2 separate regions of the Homo sapiens genome follow, and region 2 is linked to region 1. Evidence: fine-mapped expression QTL. A gene starts in region 1. The other region holds a variant in brackets. All regions are shown on one strand. Distances are between the middles of the regions.

Region 1 (2,905 bases):
ATTTGATCTTTCTCCCCTGGGTCTCCAGCACCCAGCACATGACCCAGCACAGAGCAGATGCTTCAAAAACGTTGAATGAAAAGCGACCAAATAAATAAATAAATAAATAAATAAATAAATAAATAAATAAATGAATGATCTATCCTTCTGGGTCCACCACAAACCAAATCCTCCAGGTAATCCTCCATCTTGCCCTACCCTGGATAGATGTCAGCTGGCTCTGCAATGGAAATTCTGGAAGACTTTTACGAAAAATACATAGAAGAGTAGCTTAGGAGAGGCAGCTCAGGTTGGAAGGGATGTGTGTGAGGTAGGGTGTGTGTGTGTATGTGTGTGTGTGTGTGTGTAGCACTATGAAGCTCCCCATTAGAATAAAAGCACAGGATTTTACTTAAATCTTATTTGGGGGATTGGGTGGGTGACGACCGACTCCAGGGCACACCTGGGTGTATCTTCCCATTTTGCCTAGGGATGGGAGAGCATAGAAGAGATTTTTCTCCAAGCCACTTCAAATATGTATATTTTTAATTTCTATTTTGAGATTGTAGATCCAAATGCAGTTCTAAGAAATAATACATAGACATGCCATGTACCCTTCACCCAGTTTCCCCCGATGTTGACACGATGGCAACCAGGACATTGACATTGATAAAATCCACCCACCTTACTCAGATTTCACCAGTTTTATATGCGCTCATTTGTACGTGTGTGCGCGAGCGTGGGGTGTACACTTTATATAATATTTCTGAAAGTGGCTTTTCCCTTGCAATGGAGACTGGGAAGGGGTCCAGCCTGATCCATCCCTGCCACGGAGTTGACTCCGGCAGACAGCAGTCTATGCTTGTATTCGTCTCTCGCACACAGTAGGTGGCCAACGACCGTCCACATAAACCCTGGAATTTGTCATGTCAGGGCGCGTGCAGGAGGGGAGCGCCACATTGTAAGGAAGAAAACCGAGACTGAAGTGCCCAGTATTTTGGAAGCAAAAATCAAACAAACAAAAAACTTGACGATTTCCCCCCGAATTGTGAATTAGCTAGCCGGCTAATTACTCCAAAGCGATCCTGGTGTCGGCACTCGCTGCGACCGCCGAAGAGCGCTGTTTCTGAGCCCCGCTCCCGGCTCTGCCGGCGGGGTAGGGGACGCGGGGGCTCCTCCCACCCCTACCGCCGCGTTCACCCCTTTCTTCCCTGGGGCTGGACTGTTTCACCCCGTCTCCAGGCAACGGCCAGGCGCACCGGGCGGGACGTCATTTCCTGAGGAGCCCGTGGGGAGGGGGCGGGCAGGAGGAGGGACGAGGGGGCGGGGCCCGGGCCGGGCTGGCAACGAGACGGCGTCGGAACTCGCTGGAAGACTCGGCCCGGGTGGCTCAACAGTTCGCAAAGTCCGGGCTTGCGGCCGGGCGGCGCAGAGGCGCGGAGGCTCCCCGGGCGGCTGCATCCCGGGGCTGCCCCGGACATGCCCCGCACCCCTTGTCGGACGCCCGCGCCGCTTCACCGGCTGCCACTCCCCGGAGTGCTCTGGGACTAGAGCGCCCTCCGCCCCAACTTCTGACTTTGGGGTCCCCCAGCCCTAGAGGAACGGGCGCCCGGCTGGGGGAGCCCCGGGCATGGTGTGACGGGGCAGTCAGGTCAGCTTTGCGGCGCCCCCAAACTCCAGCCACCCGTCGTCTCCGTGCCCTCCAGAATGTAGCTGCTGACCCCGCGCCCCCCGGACTCCAGCAGCAGTCTCCGCCACCTCCGGGCTCCAGCAGCCAACTCTTGTGTCTCTCAGGAACCCGCCGACGTCTCCGCGTCCCCCGGATTCCAGGTTCGCGACCCCCGCCGTCTTCGCGCCTCCGGGACTCTAGCAGCGGTCTCCGCGACCCCCTAGGATCCAGCCACTGTACCCGTGCTCCCCAAACCCAGGCTCCAGCCGTCGTCTCCGCGCTCCCGGGGATCCAGCTGTCGCGCCAGTACCCGCGAGGACAGCGGCACCGCCCACACCCCGCGCGCTCAGAGCCCGGCCGGGCCTCGGCGTGGAGATGAACGCGCCGCTGGACGGCCTGTCGGTGAGCTCGTCCTCCACCGGCTCGCTGGGCTCGGCGGCCGGGGCGGGCGGCGGCGGGGGCGCGGGGCTGCGGTTACTGTCTGCCAACGTGCGCCAGCTGCACCAAGCGCTGACCGCGCTGCTGAGCGAGGCGGAGCGGGAGCAGTTCACCCACTGCCTGAACGCTTACCACGCGCGCCGCAACGTCTTCGACCTGGTGCGCACCCTGCGCGTGCTGCTGGACAGTCCGGTCAAGCGGCGCCTGCTGCCCATGCTTCGTCTGGTCATCCCGCGCTCCGACCAGCTGCTCTTCGACCAATACACGGCCGAGGGCCTCTACCTGCCCGCCACCACCCCCTACAGGCAGCCCGCCTGGGGCGGCCCCGACAGCGCGGGGCCAGGGGAGGTGCGCCTGGTGAGTTTGCGGCGTGCCAAGGCCCACGAGGGCTTGGGCTTCAGCATCCGTGGGGGCTCGGAGCACGGCGTGGGCATCTACGTGTCTCTGGTGGAACCAGGCTCTCTAGCTGAGAAGGAAGGACTGCGGGTCGGGGACCAGATTCTGCGCGTCAACGACAAATCCCTGGCCCGGGTGACCCACGCGGAGGCCGTCAAGGTAAGGCTGTGGTTTGGAGAGAGTCTGGGGCAGAGTATGGACAGAGTGGCACAGCTTTTTCAGTAACTCCATGCTGTGTGTCCTTAGATGAATCACTTGGCCTTTCTGGGCTTTTTTTTTTTTTTTAATACTTTAAAACAGGAATGTATAGCTTACAGAGCAAATAGCTCTCAGGCACTGGGAACGTAGTTCTGCACAGACATGGCCCTTGCCTTTGTGAGGCTTAAAAGCTAGTGCAGGTGATAGTAACAAATACTTGAGCAA
Region 2 (2,905 bases), 46 kb before region 1:
TTAGGCATAAACTCTGCTACCAACCTTCCAAAGCAGAAAGAACAGGCATGGTCCAAAAGTCTTTTCTTTCTTCTTTTTCTTCTTTCTTTTTTTTTTTTTTTTTTAATAGAGATGGGGTTTCACCACATTGGCCAGGCTAGCCTCGAACTCCTGACTTCAAGTGATCCACCTGCCTTGGCCTCCCAAAGTGCTGGGATTAAAGGTGTGAGCCACCTGTAATCCAGCCCAAAAGCCTTTTCTTTCTGAGGCTCTGTCTTTTTTCTAGGAATTGAGGGTCGCACACTGACTTCCCTTAGGTCTCTTTGTCCAAAACTGGGGTTGGAAACACTCAAAAAGGGGAATGGGATTGCCAGGGCTGGCATAGACACATGATGACTCATTTCTGGAGTTGAGGGAAGGATCTTGCCCTTACAACAAGCCGGGGAAAGGGGTGGAGGGGCGGGTAACGGTCACCCCTCTGAGTGCCAACCTTGACCATCTATCTTGCTTGCCCATCAGTTCTTCAGTGCATCTGCACCTCCAATGTCCGTGCCCTTCTTGCAGACACCCCAGGTGGAGGCCTTTCCTCTTTTCTCTCTCCCAGCAATACTGGACTTTTCCACAGGAGTGGGTAGCACTCAATAAATGTTTCTTAAATAAATGAAGACAAAAAAATGTTTTAAAAAATGATTTTATGGAGGGTGTGGGGAGTATAGAATTTGGAAGAAACATATTTCATAGAATTATTAGACAAATAGAGCCCAGAGATCAGGAATTCATTGCCAGGAGCCCATGACTGGGTGTCAGCGGGTTCCATGAAACCCTGAGATTGCATGACACATTTTGCATGAATGTGTATATAAATTTTGGGTAGGGTGTGTCCTTGGTTTATAGCACATGTAAGATTCTGCAACCTCTAAAAGACTCAGAAAGCCCACCCCAAATGGCCAAGGGCAACACCCTCAATTACCGGTGGGCAAAGTAGTAGCCAGCATCCTCCAAGGAATGACAAGCTAGCAGGACTGAGCTTCTGACTCCCAGGACCTCTCCTCCTAAAGCCACAGACTCCATTGTTTCTATTTTTAAAAGGCCAGTCCAAAAGGTGTTATTATTCTCTGTCTCCCAGCACAGCTTGGAGCAGAGTGGCCAGACTAGGGAAGGAGTCTCTCGTGATGACTCACCACCATCCTCCCCTGAGTAATGGCCTTCAGGCTCTATCACTCACTTGTGCTGA[C/T]GCACTAGACTGGAAAAAGCTGACCCTGAGTCAGTGGTTATATGGACACATAAAACCCTGGGAGGCGGGACCAAAGAGAAGGAGCTGAGCTGGAGGTAAAGCCAGTGCCCACCACCCAGACCCACACCTCCCCAACCCCAAGGGAGAAAGGTAATTTACTTAGGCAAGAGCCAGGTGAGCTACTGGATCAGTGTTAAAACTCCAAGCAGCCCCTGCATAGTGGATAGCTTGTAGGTGAAGATGGAGAATGGGAAGAAGGCCCACCTCTCCCTCAATAGGCAGCTCCTTCCCACTTTTGGGATGGAGAATAGCTGCGGTTGAGTTTGGCTTGGGAGGCTCAGTGAGTTAGTTAGGACCCCACCCCACATAATTCAGAGTGTGTGAGGCTGGGTGCAGTGGCTTACGCCTGTAATCCCAGTACTTTGGGAGGCCAAGGTGGGAGGATCGCTTGAGGCCAGGAGTTTGAGACCAGCCTGGGAAACACAGGGAGACCCCCTCCTCTGCCCCATCTCTACAAAAAAAAATTTTTTTTTTTTAATTAGCCGGACTTGGTGGCCTGTGCCCATTATCCCAGCTACTTGGGAGGCTGAAGGGGGAGGGATTGCTTGAGCCTGGAAGGCTGAGGCTGCTGTGAGCTGTGTGGTTGGACCACTGCACTCTAGCCCAGGCAACAAAGCAAGACCCTGTCTCAAAAAAAAAAAATAATAATAATAATTAATGAAATTTAAAAAATACAAAAACAAACAAACAAACAAAAAACAACCCACACATTGTTGTGTGAGAGCAGGCCCGGGACAGTTTTCCAGCTCCCAAGGTGTGCACCCTGGTCGGTAAGCCCTGGATTTGTTATGTGATCTTGGGAAACTCATTTGGCCTCCCTGGTCCTCCGTTGGTTTCCTTAATAGAAAGTTAAGGGGTTGCACTAGGTCAGTGGTTCTACATATTCCTCCCTAACAACCTCTGACTCCACAAAGGTAACCCTAGGCAAGCCATGGAGGGGAAGGGTCCCAGTGAGGGGCCTTAGAGACTAGGAGGAGAGGTGCCTTGGGGGACAAACGAGAGGGCCCCTTGGAAAAGGAAGGACACTGGCCTCTGGACATTTCATGCTGATGGGATTCTGCAGCATGGCTGCCCTTTAGAAGTGAAGAGCTTTGGCCAGGCTCACACCTGTAGTCCCAGCACTTTGGGAGGCTGAGGCAGGAGGATTGCTTGAGCCTAGGAGTTTGAGACCAGCCTGGGCAACATAGTGAGACCCCATCGATATTTTTTTAAAAAGAAATGTGGAGCTTTGTAAAATCAGAATTGCTTTCCCCAGACCTACTGATTCAGAGTCTTGCAGGGATAGAGACTGGAACTTGGACTTTCAGAAAGCTCTCCAGGACATTCTAAAGCAGCAGAGATTGTGCCTGTGAATAGCCACTGCACTCTAGCCTGGACAACATAGTGAGACCCCATCTCTGTAGAAGAGGGAGAAGGAGAAATAAAGTAGCAGGGGCTGGAGATCTAAGATCTGGGCCCACTCAAGGTCAAGGTGCTGCTGACCACCTCTTTCCCAGTTGCCCCCTGGCCACAGTGGAGATGCCCATTCCAGGAGGCAGCCCCCACCTCAAAAGAAAGGAAAAGAACAGAAAAGAAAAGAAGAACAATGGGGTCCAGACTTCAGCAGGTCCTCCAAGAGCAGCCGACCTCCTG

What was found.
Region 2: its variant is fine-mapped to the expression of WHRN in fibroblasts (GTEx, PIP above 0.99).

The regions. Positions count from the first base shown.
Region 1 is chr9:114,503,920-114,506,824 of GRCh38, reverse strand. It overlaps WHRN (whirlin), which reads left to right and starts at 1,352. Exons shown (of 12, transcript NM_015404.4): 1 at 1,352-2,641. The coding sequence starts at 2,024. RefSeq lists a silencer at 1,258-1,557 and enhancers at 1,082-1,972, 1,973-2,863.
Region 2 is chr9:114,550,408-114,553,312 of GRCh38, reverse strand. No RefSeq gene overlaps it. Among named protein-coding and RNA genes, the nearest start is that of ATP6V1G1, 36 kb to the left of the region's middle. The variant C/T (reference allele first, on the strand shown) is at 1,214.